2 separate regions of the Homo sapiens genome follow, and region 2 is linked to region 1. The links come from fine-mapping of genetic effects on gene expression. Tissue or cell type: sun-exposed skin. Region 1 holds a variant in brackets; the other region holds the start of a gene. All regions are shown on one strand. Distances are from middle to middle.

Evidence for each region.
Region 2: it holds the start of SH3KBP1, and the variant in region 1 is fine-mapped to the expression of SH3KBP1 in sun-exposed skin (GTEx, PIP above 0.99).

What each region holds. Positions count from the first base shown.
Region 1 is chrX:19,831,813-19,839,812 of GRCh38, reverse strand. It overlaps SH3KBP1 (SH3 domain containing kinase binding protein 1), which reads left to right. Exons shown (of 18, transcript NM_031892.3): 2 at 3,531-3,688. Among named protein-coding and RNA genes, the nearest start is that of SH3KBP1, 52 kb to the left of the region's middle. RefSeq lists a silencer at 3,234-3,293. The variant C/T (reference allele first, on the strand shown) is at 4,173.
Region 2 is chrX:19,883,373-19,897,990 of GRCh38, reverse strand. SH3KBP1 (SH3 domain containing kinase binding protein 1) reads left to right here and starts at 10,391. Exons shown (of 18, transcript NM_031892.3): 1 at 10,391-10,684. The coding sequence starts at 10,681. RefSeq lists an enhancer at 7,725-7,774 and silencers at 9,940-10,239, 10,300-10,369, 10,850-10,989.

The DNA of each region.
Region 1 (8,000 bases):
TCCATACCCAGAAGGCATTCAGGGGCTCACAGGGAAGACAAGACACAGCTTGGGATTGCCTCAGTGGCAGGGGCCAGAGAGGCCTTGGGTCTAGAAGAGCTTGGAAGGTGATGTGGAGGCAGTCAGGACCTAGCTGTGGCCAGAAGGCAAGGAGGCTGTGCATGATTACTTAAGTTTAAAGAAAGGGCAATGGCCAGGGTGGTCGCTCACGCCTGTAATCCCAGCACTTTGGGAGGCCAAGGCAGGCAGAACATTTGAAGTCAGCCTGACCAACACGGTGAAATCCTGTCTCTACAAACAATACAAAAATTAGCTGGGCATGGTGGTGTGCACCTGTAGTCCCAGCTACTTGGGAGGCTGAGGTGGGAGGAACACTTGAGCCTGGGAGACAGAGGTTGCAGTGAGCTGAGATGGTGCCACTGCACTCCAGCCTGGGCAACAGAGCCAGACCCTGTCTAAAAAAAAAAAAAAAATTTTGTTTTTTTTTTTTAGTATCTTCTTAATTATGTATAGATTGTGTACATATATTCCTGTACTAATTGAAGATCAAGAAAACCCCAGAGAAGCTCCTACGCTGTTATTATTAGGCTTAACAAACTTTTGAAACACATAAAATTGAGTATTGTATGACTTTAGACATTGGTGGAAAAATGAAGACATTTTCTTCATGGTTCAGGTACATAGTTTTAAAATATCTTGCTAATCCTGATGGTTCCACACTTACACCAATGTCAGGGGTGGAAAGAAACCCATATTATGAATGATCTTGATAACTGAGTGTTTGGGGGCCATCTCCCCGTAAGATCTGATGTGTCTTCCCCATGTGGTGGGCAAAGAGCTCCCAGCAGAAGCTGAAGTGGCAACTCTATCATTTTCTTTCTTTCTTTTTTTCCTTTTCTTTTTTTCTTTTTTTTTTTTTTTTTTTTGAGACAAAGTTTCGCTCTTTTCCCCAGGCTGGAGTACAGCGGCATGATCTTGGCTCACCGCAACCTCCGCCTTCCGGTTTCAAGCGATTCTCCTGCCTCAGCCTCCAGAGTAGCTGGGATTACAAGCACCCACCACCAAGCCCAGCTAATTTTTGTATTTTTAGTAGAGACAGGGCTTCATCATGTTGGCTAGGTAGGTCTCAAACTCCTGACCTTGTGATCCGCCGGCCTTGGCCTCCCAAAGTGCTGGGATTACAGGCATGAGCCACCGTGCCCGGCCAGCTCTCCCATTTTCTTGGCACTTGGCCTCGTGTTGTCTACAGCTCCTACTTTCTTTACACAGATCTTTTCAAGCAGCTGACCCACTTTGTGAGGGTGATTTCAGCAAGAAGGGGTCATAGCCATAAGGAGGCTGTACCAGGAGGCACCAGAGAACTGCAGGGCACCCCATGGTGGGGACACAGTCAAACCATATCAGATGGGAATTATTAGCTTTGACATACAACTGAGACCTAGAGAAGTTAGCATCACATGGAATGCTGGTGCTTGCTCTGGTGGTACTCCTTGATTCCACTGTCCCTCTGGCTGCTTCCTGCCCCTTAAAGGATCCCTGACTGTGTGTCCTGGAGACTGGGTGAAGGAACCTGTGTCATTCTGTCAATGGAACAATAGAGAAGTTGAATTATTACTTTTTTAAAGTTAAAACAAAATGAATAGACATTGTAATTTTTTTCTCCCATCATCTCAATGGATGCTTAAAACCTATCTCAGTGTATTGAAGTTGGTTTGTTGTTGTTGTTGTTGTTGTTGTTGTTGTTGTTGTTGTTTTACTCATTTGTGCTTTTTGTCTCCTATTTAAGAAATCTTTGCCAAACCTAAGGTCATTAAGATTTTCTCCTATCCATTCTTATAAAAAGTTTTACAATTTTAGCTCTTACACTTAGGTCTGTGAACTATTTTGAGTTAATTTTAGCATATGCATGCTTTACAGAGCTCATTTAACTTTTCCTCTTCCATTATTTTATCATAATTTCTGAATTGCTAATTTACCACTGGGGATTTATCTAATTTTTGCTATCCTTGTATTCATTCATTTGCCATTCATTCATTCATTCATACGGATCTGCAAATAAAAAAGGAAAAGGTGGCTGGGCACGGTGGCTCATGCCTGTAATTCCAGCACTTTGGGAAGCCGAGGCGGGCAGATCATCTGAGGTCAGGAGTTCAAGACCAGCCTGGCCAACATGGTGAAACCCCGTCTCTACTAAAAATACAAAAATTAGCTGGGTGGGGTGGCATGCATTCAAGGAGAATCGCTTGAACGTGGGAGGTGGAGGTTGCAGTAAGCTGAGATTGCGCCACTGCAGTCCAGCCTGGGTGACAGAGTGAGACTCCATCTCAAAAAAAAAAAAAAAAAAAAAAAAGTGTTATGAAATTGGTTCATATTGAGGTGGTCATGAGGAGAAGTCCAGTCTAAATGAATTGCATAAGTTAACTAATTTTTGGATTGGTTAATGCTGCTAATTTGCATTGGCACTTTGTCAGTGAGAAGACCCACCTTTCTTACCTGTTGCCTTTGCTCATTACCAAGTATGAGAGATTTTCATAGATCAGGAAAACAATGTAACATGGAATTGATGCGTAAGAGCTCATCTGTTGAGAGGGCAGTTGTGGTTCTGATGTAGGCGGTCTGAGACATTGGCTTGGCCAGCCAGGCCCTCTATGCCACCTGTCTTTACACGTGTTGTTGCTGCAAGATGGGTGTTACCTCTGTCGGATGGTGTATTAGTCTGTTCTTGTGCTGCTAATAAAGACATACCCAAGATTGGGTAATTTATAAAGGAAAGAGGTTTAATTGACTCAGTTCAGTATGGCTGGGGAGGCCTCAGGAAACTTAACAATCATGACAGAAGGGAAAGCAAACACATCCTTCTTCACATGGTGGCAGGAAGGAGAAATGCCAAACAAAAGGGGGAAAAGTCCCTTATAAAACCATCAGATCTCATGAGAACTCACTCACTATCACAAGAAAAGCATGAGAGTAACTGCCCTCATAGTTCAATTACCTCCCACTGGGTCCCTCCTACAACACTTGGGGATTATGGGAACTACAATTCAAGGTGAGATTTGGGTGGGGACACAGCCAAACCATATCAGATGGGGATTATTAGCTTTGACATTTTGTACAACTGAGACCCAGAGAGGTTAGCATCACATAGTATTGGCGGGGGATGGGAGACCCAGAAGTCAAACCGACATCTGTTGTCTGTACTCTGAGCTCGGGGAGACAATGCTGGACACCCTCTGGGTGGGGCAAATGTTGTTATCTGGCTGTCATCATGCAGCTTCCCCTCTGAAGCGCCTGCTGGCCCCAAGACCTGTAGGCCACCCTGCCTGTGCCTGACCACGGACCAGCACTTTGTGGTTTCTGTGCTATAGGCTTCAGGTTAACCAAAATTGGGTTACTGTGTGTGGCCCTGTTATTTTGAATATTTGTAGAGGGGAAGTCCCTTTAATGTTACTTTACTGGCCTTCAAGGGATACTGGACCTCAGCCTTCTCCAACATCTGACCTAAATTACTCTGTTTTCCCTGTTCCTTCCAGTGGAGGCCATAGTGGAGTTTGACTACCAGGCCCAGCACGATGATGAGCTGACGATCAGCGTGGGTGAAATCATCACCAACATCAGGAAGGAGGATGGAGGCTGGTGGGAGGGACAGATCAACGGCAGGAGAGGTTTGTTCCCTGACAACTTTGTAAGAGTGAGTACAAAGCAAAACCCTTTTCCTGTCTCCTGTGTGGGCTCTGCTGACCAAAGTCTATGGGGGCGCTTGAGGATGAATTGCATGAACTCTCTTAGGGAATGGCTTGCCCTCCTCTGTGATATCAAGAGAAGCATGTATAGTTTTGCCCTTGGTATCTGGGATACTTGTTTTGAAATTGCTTTTTTGAGGCTCAGGATGATCTCTTTCCACTGTGTATCACTTCTTAGGATATGCTAAGGCTGGGTGCAGTGGCTCATGCCTGTAAATCCCAGCATTCTGGGAGACTGAGGTGGGCGGATCACTTGAGGTCGGAAGTTTGAGACCAGCCTGGCCAATATGGTGAAACCCCATCTCTACTAAAAAAAAAATACAAAAATTAGCCAGGTGTGGTGGCATGTGCCTGTAGTCCCAGCTACTCGGGAGGCTGAGGCAGGAGAATCGTTTGAACTTGGGAGGCAGAGGTTGCAGTGAGCTGAGATTG[C/T]GCCACTGCACTCCAGCCTGGGCAAGAGAGCGAGACTGTCTCAAAAAAAAAAAAAAAATAGTAAAGGCTGTTAAATTGTTGTATGTACTTGTTTATTTGCTTTGGAAGTTTAAAAGAATTTTATTTTTTTCTATTCCTTGCAAAATGGAGGTAAAACTCAGTTTTGACCACTTAAATAACAATTAAATTAAATGTAGAATTCAGCCAGACATGGTGGCTCATGCCTATAATCCCAGCACTTTGGGAGGTTGAGGCAGGAGAGTCACTTGAGCCCAGGAGTTTGAGACCAGCCTGGGCAATATAGGGAGATCCCTGTCTCTACAAAAATAAAATAAAATAATTAGCCAGGCATGGTGGTGTGCACCTGTATTCTCAGCTACTTGGGAGGCTGTGGTGGGAAGATCACTTGAGCCCAGGAGGTTGAGACTGCAATGAGCCGTGATCATGCCAGAGCACTCCCTGTCTCTAAATAAATAAACAAACAAATAAGTAAAGGTAGAATCCAAATTATGGAATGCTTTGAACGAATGAATGAATATAGAATTCAAATTATGCAATGTTTTCCACCTTTGTATTCATATTGCCTTTTTTTTTTTTTTTTTGAGACAGTCTTGCTCTGTTGCCCAGGTTGGAGTGCAGTGGCATGATCTTGTTCTCAGCTCACTGCAACCTCCACCTCCCAGGTTCAAATGATTCTCATGCCTCAGCCTCCCGAGTAGCTGGGATTACAGGCATGTGCCACCACGCCCGACTAATTTTTGTATTTTTTTTTAAGTAGAGATGGGGTTTCACCATATTGGCCAGGCTGGTCTCAAACTCCTGACCTCAAGTGATCCGCCCACCTCAGCCTCCCAAAGTGCTGGGATTACAGGTGTGAGCCACCATGCCCAGCTCATATTGCCTTTTTGATAGGAGCAATATTATTTTCCTTTACCCCTTTATGTCCATGAAGCATTAAACAAGACTTACTTCTTCAGTAATGTTTTGAAAATTATGCCTTTTGGAGAAGTCATCTACAGGTTAATTATAAAAATGTAACTCATTCATATTAATAAATTACCACACAGTTGTAAGTAGTACTTTGAATTGTTGGGTAGAAAAAGATCACCTGGAGGCTATTCCTCATGGGAAATATTAACTAGGTCTAGAAGTCCCCTTGCCATAAACTTTCTATCTCATACTGGAGAAGAATGGATTGTTCTCAGAAGAATGGGTTGTCCTCAGTGGGAAGACCTGCATGCAGAAGTCCCCAGGTCCCCTGCTGTAGTCTCCGTGTTACCAGATAATACTTAAGAGGACTGTGCCTTGGATACAGGGAGGCAGGTAGTATGGGGAACCTTGGGCCCAGAGAAGCAGGTGACCCCCGCCAAAGGAGCCCTGAGGGCTGGGTGGGAGGGGTTTTTTATGACAAGGAGTTGTTGATGAAAAATGTGTGATGGACACTGGACTTCCAGTCACTACCCTTTCAGAGTCGAAAATGAATAGGAACCTATTTAAATCTTTCTTTAGGATCTTGTCTCAGGGTGATCCTGCTAGCATTTCTGTTTTCTTTTCTCTTTGGTGTGAGAAGGCTGGGGAGAGTTTTGTAGGGAACATGCTGCTAAACATTGCTTTCTGGAGTTGTAGGAATATAGGCTTTCCCCCCACTGTACTACACTTGAATCCAGCCGCTCGCTCCCATTTTAAGAGTGGGAAAGTGCTGCATCTGGGCCACCACAGACTCTGTTGAGGTGTGAATGGGAGTTCTTTTGCATATCCCAACAAAGACCCCAGTTTTAGGAAAGGAGCATCCCTGAAGTTGAGCTGCATTCTAGTGTGGAAAGAGGGTTTTTCCAGATAAAAGGGGCAGTGGTTAGAGTGAAGATGAAGGAAGAAGGAATGACAGAAGGGGACTGTGGGAAAGAGAGAAGACCCTGGGAAGGAGGGAAGACTGTGGGGAAGGATAGCAAGATTGTGGGAAAGTGAGCAGGACTGTGGGGAAGAGAGAGGAGGGCCCTGGGAAGGAAGGAGGACTGTGGAAAGGCGAGGTGGATGGTGGGAAAGAGGGAGGAGGACCCTAGGAAGGAGGACTGTGGGAAGGGGAGAAGGATCATGGGAAAGAGAGAGGAGGACCCTGGGAAGGAAGGAGTACTTTGGGAAGGTGAGGAGGACTGTGGGAAAGAGGGAGGAGGACCCTGGGAAGGAAGGAGGACTGTGGGAAGGGGCGGAAGACTGTGGGAAAGACAGAGGAGGACCCTGGGAAGGAAGGAGGACTGTGGGAAGGGGAGAAAGACCATGGGAAAGAGGTAGGGGGACCCTGGGAAGGAAGGAAGAATGTGGGAAGGCAAGGAGGACTGTGGGAAGGGGAGAAAGACCATGGGAAAGAGGTAGGGGGACCCTGGGAAGGAAGGAAGAATGTGGGAAGGCAAGAAGGACTGTGGGAAAGAGGGAGGAGGGCCCTGGGAAGGAGGGAGGACTGTGGGAAGGAGAGGAGGACCGTGGGAAGGAGAGGAGGACCATGGGAAAGAGAGAGGAGGAGCCTGGGAAGGAGAAGGGACTGCAGCATCAGCTCCAGTTTTGAGGGTAGGTCGTATTTTGAACACCTTTAATGTGTCTTGTTGGCCTAGTGTCACCTGATTTTAAACCACAAATCTACAGATTCAGAGAACTGAGTTGGAAGGCACTGAGAAAGCCTATGGAATTTGCTCATAGCATAGGGCTGGCGCGCTGTCAGTGACTGTGGAGGGAACCAGGGCAGGGAAATGCAGTGTAGGAACTGCCCACGCGAGAGCTGGAACCTGACCCTCCCCCTGCTCGGAGAGGACTCCTTGCTGTGAAATGGAGGTGATGTCTTGACCAGAAGGTCTCCGCATTGCCCCACCTGCTCTGCTTTGGGCTAGGCCAGTGTGGGCATGGCAGCAGGCTCCTGTCCTGTGGCTTCCCATGGGCTTTGGCTCAAGGGAAGCCCTGGTGGGAGATGGCAGGGAGGGATGCGAGTGAGATTGGGGGGCGGGGGGAGGCGGTTATCCCACCAACTCCCTGCTCATGTGGATTTTGGGCTGGCCGTGTCTCTCATGGGATGGGTGGCTGCTCCAGTCAGGCTCACCTTCCTCCTTACCCCTCTCTCCTCATTCCTTCAGGTCTGGGGGCTTCCTTGTTTCGAGTCCCTGGCTACCACCTTGGGCTTTCTTTATACCTCACCCACCCTGTGAAAGAGTATTAATCCCACTTGAGATTACCCTAATTCGAGTGGGCCATCTGTTTCCTTTTGAGAACCCGACTACCTCATCGGCCTGTTCAGAGGATTAAACCAGAGAATGCTGGAAATTGTTTAGCACAGTGGCCAGCCCCTCAGTGAGTGTGCCACAGTGCTGGTCACTGGGTGAGGGAATGGGTCCTCTCCTCTGGGCCTGAATTGCCCTGCGCTCACCTGCTCAGGTGTCCTCTAGTTTCAGCCGGAGCACTTCCAGGGAGGGGAAGACATGCTCTTGAGAGATGCTTGCTCTACCTAGGGCAGAAAGGATGTAGCAGGAGTGGCTGGGGCTGCGCTACTTGTAGCTGTCACATTTGGCAGAAAAAGAAACTTCTATTCTTTCAGATGGCTGAGTCTATTTTCAAGTCTTCACCCACTGGAAATGTTTTAGGCCTATTATTGAAAATTCAGTAGGTGGTTGCAGTGGAGTTAAACAATAACCAGGACTCTGTAGAGAATTCTAAAAGCTGAAAATGCATCTTTAAGTAATAGTAATCATATTGGCATAGGTGTGCACTTTTGAAAGTGGCTTTATGCATGTCCTATGTAGTGTAAGAATAATGTGTCCCCAGATGGAATTGGGTAGTTTTGTGGAA
Region 2 (14,618 bases), 55 kb before region 1:
AGCCTCCCGAGTAGCTGGGACTGCAGGTGCGTGCCACCATGCTTGGCTGATTTTTTATTATTTTATTTTTGTAGAGATGGGATCTCACTATGTTGTCCTGGCTGGTCTTAAACTCCTAGGCTTAAGCAATCCTCCTGCCTCAGTCTCCCAAAGTGCTTGGATTGCAGGCATGAGCCACTGTGCCTGGCCTGTTTTATTTTTTAAAATACTGAGCAGAGATTACTTTTCTAATGATAATGATATGAATATATATCGCAAAACATCAAGTCAGTTTTACCAGTTCAGGGCTATGCCTCACTGGTAGCTCCCTTGAGCCCGTTTTCATTGCCAAGGACCAAGCAGTTCATCAGATGACAGAGCGTTCACCTTGGCTCTGAGGAGTTGAGGTACAGCGGGGATTCTCACACTTGAGCTGCTGATCAAAACACAGGTTACTGGGTCCCAGCCCCAGAGTTCCTGACCCGGAAGGCCTGGGGCGGGGTCCCCAGCGTGCATCTCTAACAGGTTCCCACATGCTGCTGCTGCTGGGCTGGGGACCACACTTTGAGAGCTTCTGTGGTCCAGAAAAGAAAACTTCAGCTGGGGAATAGAATCCTTAACCCAGGGCTGGCAAGCAAAACAAAGAAGATGAACTTGACTTACTTCCCACTTTTGCCTCTGGCTGGTCTGTAATTATTTTTGAGAAGAGGAACTTGATTTGACTGACTCTATTTAATAAGAAGTCGTGCTAGAAAAGGGTTGTGCCATCTCTTATTAAGTGACCGCCTGGTTCAGAGACTTTTCAATTAAGTCCCATAGCCTCGGGCTTGAGGATGCATCTGAGGTTGGCTGTCTGCTTTGGGGCCTTCACAATCTAGGGGATGGCTGTGGCGTTTCACCGTCAGCTCAGGCCACTGGTCTTGGTTTCTCTGAACCCCGAGGTGATGGGGTGGTGGTTATTGTAATTCTGATTTCCTGTTTGGGAAGCAGTGTGGGGGTATTATTGGAGGAGTTAAAACACAGGGAATATCGTCCCCACCCAGCCCCATATAACCCACCAATCACATATGTATTCATTCTCTTTTGGTACTAAAATATACATAACAAAATTTGCCATTTTAACCATTTATTAATGTACAGTTCAGTGGCATTAAATACATTCACATTGTTGTGCGACCATCACAACCATCCATCTCCAGAACATTTGCATCTTCCCATACTGAAATGCTGTAACCATGATCACTCTTTTAAAATCTTTAACAGCTTTTATTGAGATATAATTTGCATATCACATAATTAACTTTTTTTTTTTTTTTTTTTGAGACGGAGTCTCGCTCTTTTGCCTGGCTGGAGTGCAGTGGTGCAATCTCGGCTTGCTGCAACCTCTGCCTCCTGGGTTCAAGTGATTCTTCTGCCTCAGCCTCCCGAGTAGCTGGGACTACAGGCGCACACCACCATGCCCAGCTAATTTTTGTATTTTTGGTAGAGACAGGGTTTCACCATGTTGGCCAGACTGGTCTCAAACTCCTGACCTCAGGCAATCCACCCGTCTCGGCCTCCCAAAGTGCTAGGATTATAGGTGTGAGCCACTGTGCCTGGCAATTCACCCATTTTAAAATGTATAATTCAACAGTTTTTAGTATATTCACAGAGTTGTGGAACCATCAACACAATCAATTTTAGAACGTTTTGTCACCGCAAAATGAAACCCTGTACCCATTAGCTGTCACTCCTCAATTCCCCCAGCCCCTGACAACCACTAGCCTACTTTCTGTCTCTATGGATTTGCCTGTTCCAGAAATCTCATATACATGGAACCATATAATAGGTGGCTTTCGACAACTGGCTTCTGTCACTTAGCATCATATTTTCAAGGGTCAACCATGTTGTGGCATAAATCAGTACTTCATTCCCTTTTGTATTCATTTTTTTTTTTTTTTTTGAGACAAAGTCTTGCTCGGTCACCCAGGCTGGAGTGCAGTGGTGCAATCTTGGCTCACTGCAGCCTCAAACTCCCAGGCTCAAGTGATCCTCCCACCTCAGCCTCCCATGTAGCTGGGACTACAGGCACACGCCAGCATGCCTGGCTAATTTTTGCATTTTTTTGTTTTTGTTTTTGTAGAGACAGGGTTTCGCTGTGTTGCCCAGGCTGGTCTTGAATTCCTGGACTCAAGCGATCCACCCACCTTGCCCTCCCAAAGTGTTGAGATTACAGGCATGAGCTACCGAGCCTGGCTGTATTCGCTCTTAATAACATTCAAATTTGAATTCATTATCTCCTCCACATCCCTACCCCAACAAAAACTTCCTTCTCCACTTAGTGGATTTCTCCACTTAGTTGAAACTCCATTATCTATCCAACTTCCAAGCCAACTAACAAAATATCTCTATTGAATCCTCCATCTTTGCTCCCTATCCTCTCGTCAAATCCACTGCCTCATCAGAGCCTGTCAAATGTATTTCAAAAATGGCTCTAGAATGTAACCTCTCCTCTTTGTTAGTATCATTGCCATCATATTTCTTGCCTTTACCACCTCTGGCCTGTTGCTGGCCTCCCACCTGCAAGCTCTTCCTCCAGTCCTTTCTCCACAGAGCTCACCAGTTACCTCCCTAAAAACAGCCTGCTTAGAAATCTGTGCTCCAGGCCAGGCACGGCGGCTCATACTGGTAATCCCAGCATTTGTGAGGCCGAGGTGTGTGGATCACTTGAGGCCAGGAGTTTGAGACCAACTTGGCCAACATGGTGAAACCCCATCTCTACTAAAAATACGAAAATTAGCCAGGTGTGGTGGTGCACACCTGTAATCCCAGCTACTCGGGAGGTTGAGGCAGGAGAATTGCTTCAACCCAGGAGGCAGAGGTTGCAGTGAACCGAGATTGTGCCACTTCACTCCAGCCTGGACAACAGAGTGAGACTCTGTCTCAAAAAAAAAAAAAAAAAGAAAAGAAAAGAAAAGAAAAAAGAAACCTGTGCTCCTACCCATTGCCTGCAGGGTCTTGTTTGATCTGGCCCTGACATAGAAACCATTTAGAATCAGACATTTCACTACACTCCTGCCCCTTCCACAGGAGACCCCTTGAAAATGCCATCTGTTCTGCAGACTCTGCACATCCTCACTTGTTCTTCCCTCTGTCAGGAACACGGGCCAATGTCTGTGCAGCCTGGAGGCTGAGCTCCAAAGGAACCCAGCCTGTGAAGGAGCCCCTGAGCTTAGCTTCTCCCGAAGGTTCTGGGACAAAAAGAGAAACTATGTTTGCAAGTCAATTCCTACTTTTAAATTTTCATTACCGATGAGATCAAAAGCCTCCCATAGTAATTTATCAGTTTCCATTTTTAAAAATTGGCCTGTTGATACAGTTTATTCCTATGTTAAATGCCATTGTTCTATTTAATGTTAACATTTATTTATTTAGACGGAGTCTTGCTCTGTTGCCCAGGTTGGAGTGCAGTGGCACAATCTCGGCTCACTGCAACCTGTACCTCCCGGGTTCAAACGAGTCTTCTGCCTCAGCCTCCCCAGCAGCTGGAATTAACGTGCGTGCACCACCACATCCGGCTAATTTTCATATTTTTAGTAAAGACGGGGTTTCACCATGTTGGCCAGGCTGGTCTTGAACTCCTGGCCTCAAGTGATCTGCCTGGGTAGGCCTCCCAAAGTGCTGAGATTCCAGGCGTGAGCCACCATGCCTGGCTTAATGTTAACATTTATTACAATATATATATCACACATATGATCTTAATGTCTGGTGCTTTGGGAACTTTTTTGATTATCATTTGATTTGCCTTTTAATTGTGAAAATGTAGTTCCTTACACATGACCCCTTGTGATTTTGGTGGGGGAGGAAACCAGCAGGATGGGTAGAAAACAGTAGAAACCATGTTTTTTGTTAATCTCCTGGGACCATTCTCCCAATTTACTATTTTCTTAGACAAAGCAGTGCTGTGGAAAAGGATGGAAAAATGTTCTTGGCAAGTTCATCTGTGCACCAGGGCTCTTTTTGCGCACTTTGGATACAAGCTTGTGTGACCAGTCAGCTTGGGAGTTGATTACTCAGGCATTCTTTGGATTTTTAAACGAGGACATCCTATTTTTGTAGCATTGTGGACATGCACGTCTCACCTTCTAGTTGCTTCCTTTGTGTTTTCCTTTGTTTACAAAGCGAGGCGTTCCCACAAACCTTGTAAAGAAGGTCATGGTTTAGCTGTTTCATAAGTGATCTACTTCTCTGATTTGATTCGTTTGTTCATCTTTATAGAGCAGGTGAACCCAGTCCTGTTAGATTTGCTGAAAAAGATTTACTGAAAAGGAAAAAGAGGGAAGGGAGTGGGTCATTCTAAGAGAGGCTATCAAGCCAGGTAAACATAATAGAGCAAGACATTTGTCATTAATATTTCTGTGGCTTTTGATCTAGACATCAGTTACCTTTAACCTGGTGTGCATGAAGCAAAGGAGGAATGGAAAAGCCTGCCTCAAAACCATCAGGCTCACACCTGTAATCCCAGCACTTTGGGAGGCTGAGGCAAGTGGATCACTTCAGCTAGGGGTTCGAGACCAGCCTGGTCAACATGGCAAAACCCCATCTCTATTAAAAATACAAAAATCAGCTGGGTGTGGTGGTGCACACCTGAGGTACATGAATCTCTTGAGCTTGAGCTCAGGAGGCAGAGGTTACAGTGAGCGGAGATCACATCATTTCACTCCAGCTTGGGCGACAGAGTCAGACCCTGTCTAAAAAAAGAAAAAAAAAAAGCCATCAGCACAGAGCCATGACTGCTTGCTTAAAGTGAACAGACACTCCTCAAAAGAAGCACTATTCACAATAGCAGAGACTTGGAACCAACCCAAATGCCCATCAATGATAGAATAAAGAAAATGTGGCACATATACACCATGGAATACTATGCAGCCATAAAAAGGATGAGTTCATGTCTTTGCAGGGACATGGATGAAGCTGGAAACCATCATTCTCAGCAAACTAACATAGGAACAGAAAACCAAACATTGCATGTTCTCACTCACAAGTGGGAGCTGAACAATGAGAACACATGGACACAGGGAGGGGAACATCACACACCAGGGCCTCTTGGGTAGTGGGGCGCTAGGGGAGGGATAGCCTTAGGAGAAATACCTAATATAGATGACGGGTTGATGGGTGCAGCAAACCACCATGGCACGTGTATACCTATGTAACAAACCTGCACATTTTGCACATGTATCCCACAACTTAAAGTATAATAAAAGAGAAAGAAAGAAAAAAAAAAGTGCTGTTTGCCAGAGTTCTCCAAGTAAAGTTACTATTTCCCCCATTTTAAATATGAAGACATATTTATTTCAGGGAAAATACTTTGAGGCTATGCAAATATTCTGTTTCTCCTTAAAGTTTCACCCACTCATTTGTGAACGGTAGTTGGATCATGCCTATATTAGCAGTTACTGTGATGTTCTAATGATGCTTTTCCCTTTCTCTCATTTCTCCTACACTTTAATTGGAATTCCTCTGTAAGGAAGACTTGTCCCTTCTCCTTGATATTTTCCCCTAGTCAGTTATTTAGTTGTATTTCTATAGACTCAAAGATATTAATTTTCTTCCAATACAATCATTAATTATTTTGTTGCTTGAATTGCTCCAGCTTTGGCCTTTGGGAGCCCTTTGGGGTTGGCTCCTGTGCCCTTCTGCTGTGCCCTGTCACCTTTGTTGAGTACATCTTTACTTTCTGGCACTGTGAGATTTTTACATTTCTCCATAAAGTTCATCAGAAGCACTATACAATGAGTGTCTTTTGTACAGCACTCAGCACGTAATTTATATTAATGTAAAGACAATATTAAAGGTTATCAAAGTATTGTTCATTAAAGGCAAATTACAGATGTTAAGTCCGAGTACTCAGAGATAGCAAGTATGAAAGACAGAAGCTCACCCACCTTCAATTTTTTCTTTTTTTTTGAGACAGGGTCTTGCTCTGTCACCCAGGCTGGAATGCAGTGGTGCAGTCACGGCTCACTGCAGCCTCAACCTCCCAGGCTCAAGTGATCCTCCCATTTCAACCTTCTGAGTAGCTGGGACTACAGGTGTGCGCCACCTCATCCGACTAATTTTTGTATTTTTTGTAGAGACAGGATCTCACTATGTTGTCCAGGCTGGTCTGAAACTCCTGGGTTCAAGTGATCTACCCACGTCGGCCTCCCAAAGTGCTGAGATTACAGGCATGAGCCACCATGGCCGGCCACACCTTCAGTTTCTATCCAAAAATATGTTACTACTACTGAGCAACATAGCGGTGCCTTTTAAGTCATACGATATCATTTTAAGTGTAACAGCTCCGATACTTTCTATTTCCAAACTGCATAATCTCCTCTGGTGGAAATGGGAGTTCAGTGGGACAAAGATGTATTAAATAAAATCCTATTTCTCTAGAAATATTCATGAGATGAATTTACATCATTTGAAATATTGCAATAACCATTTTGTTAAAAGATACTCTTGTAAGAGGGAGGCAGGATGAGAAATTATGCATCTATTCATGTCAGCAGCTGGATCTGAATCTTGATATTAACTTCCCTTGTGCTGGTCAGCAAAAGTTTCTCCAAGGAAAAATGAAAGGACAATAGGAACAATTCAGAAGAACTAAACAATAAGTGAAAAAATGGAAGGTTCATTTTCATAAGTCAGAGAAACTTAAAATGAAAAATAAACTATAGTGTTTTGGATAGAATCACCACAACTTTGTTTAGTTAAGGCATTAAAATTAGGGCACATGTCCCGGTGCGATGGCTCACGTCTGTAATCCCAGCACTTTGGGAGGCCAAGGCGGGTGGATCACCTGAGGTCAGGAGTTCAAGACCAGCCTGGCCAACAAGGTGAAACCCCATCTCTACTAAAAATACAAAATTAGCTGGGCGTGGTAGCGCATGCCTGTAATCCCAGATACGCGGGAGTCTGAGGCAGGAGAATCGCTTAAACCCGGGAGGTGGAGGTTGCAGTGAGCCAAGATCCCACCATTGCACTCCAGCCTGGGCAACAAGAGTGAAAGTCCATCTCAAAAACAAAAAAATAAAAAATAAAATTAGGACATAGCTCAGGGATTTTCAAAAATATTGTCTTGCCATCAGTCTTTCTTTTGTGGTAACGCAAATTTGACCACGCAGGAAGCAGATCAAGGAGGAGCGACACCGCATTCCTGTCCAAGAAGGAAAAGATATGCCTTGAAATAGACCAGAGAATAAACAAGACTCAAAACTTCAAGCAAGTCGGGCGCAGTGGCTCAGCCTGTAATCCCAACACTTTGGGACACCGAGGCGGGGGAGGATCATTTGAGCCCAGGAGTTTAAGACCAGCGTGGGCAACATAGTGAGACCTCATCTCTACAAAAACTACAAAAATTAGCCGGGTGAGATGGCACGTGCCTGTAGTCCCAGCTATTTGGGAGGCTGAGGTGGGAGGATCACTTGAGCCCAGGAGGTTGAGGCTGCAGTGAGCCATGATCACGCCACTACCCTCCAGCCTGAGTGACCGTGAGACCCTGTCTCAGAAAAAAAAAAAAAAAAGACAACAAAACGAAACAAACCCCCCAAATTTCAAGTGATCTGTGTTCACCTGTGTGAAGTTGGAAATAAAATTCCATGAGAAGACTGTCTTCTCCACATAGGACAGAGAGACCAAGCAGGACATAAGACAAACTGCTGATTTTTTCTTTTTCTTTGAGCCGACAGGGTTCCCGCACCCCATCTGCTGGTTTAGGTGTAGTGGCCTCTGTGATGCCTGGGTAAGTTTAGCTATGGGAAGGTATCATCAACAATGTTCAAAGACTTTTGACTCATCATTGTGAGAATGCACTGGGCAACCAGCCAAGAATCTTCAGCACTCCAGATAACAGTCCACTGCAAGGCCAGCACAACTGTTGCCATGTTGAAATGTACCCCATCACTTTCAGGGGTCTGAGGCTCTTTGAGAGAGGGTTAGGATGACCCACTGATACGGCCTTACCAAAGAGAACCACCTCTGGAATTGAGCAGACCCCCATACCAGTTCTTCTGGGGTTGGGGGAAAAAAAATGTCCCAGTAGCAGAGGGTTTATCCAGGCTCTGTGAGTTTCAGTGTTTGTCAACTCTAAGATGGTATCAGAAGGCTTGATTGCCCTGATTAGAACATGATATAACAAGACATGTAATGAGTGAGGCACCAGGGTGCCTGGAGGAGGAATATTTGAGTATTCATCATCCCTGCCTTCAACATTTCACATTCTTTTTTTTTTTTTTTTTTTTTGAGACGGAGTTTTTCGCTCTGTCGTCCAGGCTGGAGTATAGTGGCGCCATCTAGGCTCACTGCAACCTCCACCTCCCAGGTTCAAACAATTCTTGTGCCTCAGCCTCCCACGGAGTTAGGACTAAGGCATGCACCACCACGCCTGGCTAATTTTTGTATTTTTAGTAGAGAGAGGGGCTCGCCATGTTGGTCAGCCTGGTCTTGAACTCCTGACCTCAGGTGATCCGCCCACCTCGGCCTCTCAAGGTGCTGGGTTTACAGGCGTGAGCCACCGTGCCTGGCCCACTTCACATTCTTTTCTTTTCTTTTTTTCTGAGACGGAGTCTCGCTCTGTCGCCCAGTCTGGAGTGCAGTGGCACGATCTTGGCTCACTGCAAGCTCCACCTCCCGGGTTCACACCATTCTCTTGCCTCAGCCTCCGGAGTAGCTGGGACTACAGGCGCCCGTCACAACACCCAGCTAATTTTTTGTATTTTTTAGTAGAGACCGGGTTTCACCATGTTAGCCAGGATGGTCTCGATCTCCTGACCTCGTGATCCGCCCGCCTCGGCCTCCCAAAGTGCTGGGATTACAGGCGTGAGCCACCGCGCCCGGCCTTCACATTCTTAATCTCCGTGTTCTCTGATCCCTTTTTTAGGAGTCTGATATTGATGACACTAGGACTTCAATTGCAGCCTCTGTGTGGATGGGCCTCTTGTCCCTTGATTAGTCTCCTATTTCGATCGGTTTGACACACATGAACGGTATTTAGAAAGATGATGCTACTGATCTCTTGTTTGTAAGACCCTGACTTTGAGGTTTTTTGAAAAACTCATGAAACAGTTATAAGAACAATTTTCTACAGAAATCCCAGGACGGTAACCAATTTACAAGAGTTGCCCCGCCAACACAGGTGAGGTATGGAGACAGCCCCTCTCTTGGGTAGGGGGTCGGCTTTCATTTGTCCCTTTTGAGTCCACTAGCCCTCAGCCTCCTCCATTTCCAGGGGCCACTGATGTAATTTCTCTATTGTCTTACGTGCTCTTTGCCTAAATGTCTCCCATGTAGTTCACTATCGCTTCCTACCACCAGATGGTGGAAAGGGAAAAGGAAATAACGGGCCGGTAGAGGAATGTGGTGGCAGGCAGAGTATCTATGGCGAAAGGTGTGGTGGTGAATGGACCCAAAACGGAGCTTCTGAATTGCCCACGAATGCCCACGGATTCCCTGTTAACATTTTAGCGCCCACTCAAGGGTCGGCCGTCCAGGTCTGGGAGTCAGTAAGGCACAATAATGCCTGCTAGGGAGGGAGCCAGCCCTCATCTCAGCGGATTCCTGGGAACGTCAGAGCTCGGGAACATTCCTGAACACCCGAACCGCACCTGGCCCAGGCACTGGGGCGGGGCTTAGGCGGGTCCCAGCGAGGCGATGCGTCCCCTCGGCCCCGCTGCGTCCTTCGCCCGTTTTTCCCCACGTCAGTGCCACCGCCTCCTCTGTGCGGAACTCGCACCTGGCCTGCCTGCGTTCCCACGCCCCACCGAAGGGACGCCGCGTTTCTCTCCCTTCCAAGGGACCCTTTTCCTTCCCCTCCAACAGCCCCCCGGGAAAACTCATTCCAGATTGCCTCGATGCCCCAGGGCCACCTGCCATCACCCTGGTCAGGCGTTTGGCCCCGGGCCTGCCCTGGTCTCCATCCCCAGCCCGTCCTCCACCTCTTGTCGCCCCCTCCCGCTCAGCCCCCTTCTCCTCCTTCTCCACGTGCCCCTGCACTCCCACGCCCCTCCCCCAAGAAGCCCCTCTCCTCCGGTCTCGAGGAGTCTCGCGGCACTTCCCGGGGCGTCAGCCCAGCCGCTGCGGGTGGGTGGCAGCCGCGCGGAGAGGGGTGCCTCTGGCGCGGGCGGTGAGGAGGGCGCCCAAGCCCCTCAGCCGCAGGGACGCCCCCGGCGCCTGCCCCGACGCGGCCCCGGCCCCGGCCCCGCCCCTCTCCGGCCCCGCCCCCGCCCGGCGGCCGCGCGTCCCCGGCAGGCGGAGCTGCAGGAGCCTCGCGGCAGCGCTGAGGAGGAGGGGAGAGCGGGCGGCGCGGCCGCGGCTGCCGGGCGCTGGGCTGGGCGGCGCTGTTTTTTTTTTTTTTTTTTTTTTTTTTTTTTTTTTTTTTTTTTTTTTTTTCGCAATTTCCACTCGCGGGGAGCAGGAAACCCGGCGCAGCCGGGCGCATTGGGCCGCGATGCAACAGCAGCAGCAGGAGTCGCCCCGGGGCAGCAGCGGCAGCAGCAGCAGAGGCAGCAGCGGGCGGCGCTGAGCCGCCGCCGCCGCCACTGAGGAAGAAGCCGGCCCAGCCGCCGCCGCGTCCGGACCCTCGCGCCTGGATCCCAGCGCCCCGATCCCGGCGCCCCAACCCCCACGCCCGCCTCCGCCAACTTTCACGCTGCCTCGGCGGCCCGGCCCGGCTCGACGCCAATGGGTGAGTGGGGGCCGCCCGCGTCCGGGCGTCCACTTCAGCCTTGAGGGCGGCGCGCCAGTCCCAGAACCGCGGAGCCCGGGAGGGCGCCCCGGGGGCAGGGTCCGGACGGGGGACACCGCGGTGGGCGCCCTCGCCTGCCTCGCGCACCCCCATTCACTCCCACTTGCGCCCGTGTGCCCGCCGAGCCCGCGCGCGGCGCCGACGGGAACCCGCGGGGGCCTGAGCAGACGATCACGGGGGCTGGCCCCGGGCGGCTCGGGCTGAGGGATGCAGGGGGTGTGGTTGGTTTTTCGGGTGGGCGGGGAGAGTTTTGTCTTGGCCATTTTTGCACCCGAGCGCGCCCTCCTCTGCGCTGCGGACACGGGCACCCGGACCTGGTGGGCTCCGGCCCTGCGCGGGGCTGCTGGTGTCTTCCTGGTCCTGTCTCGGGGGAAGCTGGAACCTCGGGGTCTTGGAGGGGGCTGGGTTGCCTTTGCTGGGGGTTGACAGGGGTTGGGGGGTGGGGCGGGAAACGCCCCAGTTCCTGGTCTGGCTCGCAGTCCCGGGGTCCAGAGCACCTGACGCTCCTCTCCTTGCGCCCCCCTTCCTCCCGGCCCCGACCCTTTCGCTGCTGCCTTCCTCCAGCCTGGCGAGCTCTCTGCTCCGTGATGCTAAAAGGCCACTTCCCATACTGTCCTTTAAGTCTTCAGGGTCTGGGACCTGGAAATGGTGATCCGGTCTTTGATTTACTGAGTAAACATCAGTTCGAAGTAGCCAACTAACCTTTGAACCCCCTGGGTCCCATTTGATTTAGACCCCGGAGCATTGGAACCACCTTGCTGCCCAGAGAAGCTGCCACTTTATTGGCAAGGCACTTATGATTACTTGGGCTATTAAATGTTTGGTCTACCCAGGTAATGTTCTTGCTGACAGCCAGCTTCTGTTTTTCAGCCTCTGGCAGATTATTTTTGGATGTTCCTAGGCCAGGCATAGGAAGGCTGCAGATAATAATAAATCATAATAAAGTGAGACCTTTCTGTGTTCAGGTAATAGGATTCCAGTACACTAGTCAGGATGTTCAGAAAGCCTGAAGGATTGGAAAAGAGGAGGTTTAACCCAGTCCGTTGTTGACAGGCAAAGTTAAAATCCCATTTGTGGTCATTTGCCAAAAAAGGTTTTCCTTTTCTAAGTAGTGGTGATCTGTTGTCCCCTTGGCTTAAATGTCACTTTTTTCACAGTGCCCTTCTCTCCCACCTGTAGTCTAAATTGGTTCCTGTTCCATTTTCTCATACAACACCTTTTTTTTTCGTAGCAGTATTACATATTTGTGCGTAACAGTTATCTCCTCTACTGTAAGCTCTGTGACCATAGGGACAGCACAGTGTTGCATAGTTTGCTCAGCACTTTTGGTGTGTGGCACAGAGCAGGACCTAAATATTTGTTGAATGAATGAATGAGGGGCATGAAATCCTCCTCCTCTGCTGGGGACAGAACACTTAGCTCACTCTTGTTTTGCTTTGGCCCATAAGATGATTTAGTTCATTGGCAGAAGTATATACTTTAAACCTTACAGGCCACTTTAGTAATGGGTTAATTTCTCCCGAGGTAACCAAAAATTCTGTTTTGATCACCTTTCATTTTGGGTGGGTCACCGAGAGGGTTATGCACAAAAAGAAGTTAATCCAAATGTCTTCTCCCATGGCCAGACTGTGCTTTCTGTATCTCAATGAGAAGGGGACTGAGTCTCATTTAAGAAGAATCAGACCTATTTTTCAGATTTGAACTGTTTTCATTCTTCAGAACTTCCTACGAAAAATAGAGTGCTCCTGTAGTTTTTAGTCCTTTTGTACTTAATCTTTACTGCAACCATTATTGCAGGGGGAGGGGGCATCGATTTTCATTTATTTCAGGAGTTAATACTTAGAGGTGATAATGTCAAAACGAATGTAATTTAATTCATGTTTATAGTGGGATTTAAGGTGCTTATAGTAGTTTGTGGCTAAAAATCACCTGCTCTTTTGAAAGCATCTCCAGCAGTATATTTGTAATGAAGTGCAGTTATTTAACGGTTCATTCTGTATGTCTTCCAATGGAGTGATCTAATGGGCTGAGGTTGTGTGTATGCAGACAGAGGCCCACCCTTTCCCCCAAGTCTCTGGTTTTCAGATTTATCCAGTTTATCAATTTGATGCAATTTTATTCTTTTTTAAGAGGGAGGGTCTCGCTGTGTTGCCCAGGATGGATTTGAACTCCTGGACTCCAGATCTTCCCAAGTAGCTGGGACTGCACGCTCACACCACTGTGCCTGATTCTGATACACTTATATTCTTACCTGGCCTGATAATGAGTTTTCTCTTGATGGATAACATAGTAAAACTGTATCTTATATTTCGTTTTCTGAAAAATAACAGAAAAGAACCAAATCCCTAACCCTGAAGTGAAGCTGGTTAGTTGCAACATGGCCTCTTATAAAAGCCCATCAGAATGTGCCCTCTGAACTTGCTAGGAGATGCATGCCTACAGTGCCAGACACAGAGAAAGCCTCTTATAATTACAATTAAACAGATATTATGGTGACCCAAATCTGTGAGTAGTGAAGGGTTTGCAAGCCCACAAATGATTTCTGTTTAATTCCAGAGTAACAACAAAGTTTGGATAGCCTTTGGCAATGTATTTATTGTATTGGCGGTAGACTGCTGTATGCTAAACTAAAGCTAAAATGAACATAATGTGTTGGTCTGTACAAATGTCTTGAGTTAGAAATGGAAGAAAAGGCTCCCACCTTAATTGTACATAAGCTTTACCCACTTCTATCCATCTTGGCACGAGCAAAAGCTTGCTGTGGCTCTGGTTACACAAACCTTGGTGGTTTCTTCTCTTACTACTTCAGTTCTTTTGGCGTTACTGACATTCTCTCATCAACTCTTGAGTTTGTAGTTGTTTTTAATGTATTTTGCATACAGCAGTATTTGTTCATCTATCCATCCATCCATCCATCCAATGTTTGTTGATCTTCTTTGCATAGGCACTGTGCTAAGAACAGGTGCAGAACAGAGACATGACACTTTGGGCTTCTCAGTCTAATGAAGGCTGACTTGAATGCAATTCTCATGGCAGTATGTAGCTGAAAGCCATAGTAGAGCGCATGAAAGATGAGTGGAGAAGGCCAATCTGACTTAGCCTGGAGAGTGCCCAGGACAGTGTCTTAGAGGAGATTGTGTTTGAGCAGAAATCTGGTTGAGTATGAGTCATCACTGCCCTCCAGCCACACCTGGTTCTTGTGGCAGAGACTGAAAACGAGCACCGTGGGAACCGCGGGGCATCTCAGTAAGATGGTACAAGGAAGGATGACTTAGAGGGCTTGCACCTGTGTCAGGTGGCTTGAGGGCGTGTTTAAGGAAGCTGGGCATTACTTTGGATTGGATGCTACCAGGGGGAATTTGTGATTGGGTATTTTAACAAATGTTCTCTAGGAGCAGGGAACATTGGAGGCAGGCCACAGCTATGGTTGGTAAAGCAGCAGCAGTCATTTGCATTATCCAGGATTGGGGGATATTTGGTCATGTGTGTGGTTTGGACAAGGTGCATGTTTTGTCCGTGTTCAGACATGATTAATGTGTGGTCTTGTTTTCATCTTATTCCATCCTGGTCGCAGAGTGGCCTTGTCTGATGTTGGTTTTCTAGGGAATTGTTTCTGTTCAACAGGACACCCTGGCCCAGCTGTGGGTGCCTGGCCAGCTCCCAGCCAGAAGAACTGCTCTTTCTCCGAGTTAACTATGTGACAGGCAGGGGCAGGGAATCGGAGGCAGTGGGGGAGGAAAATGGCTTTCTAGGTATATCTGTGGCTACTTCATATCAACCAGGTATAGCCTGGACTGTTGTTCAATGCTAAGCACGATGGACATCTGAAATGCTATACTAAGGGAAGAGAGAGTGACAGAGAAAGAGCAAGCTG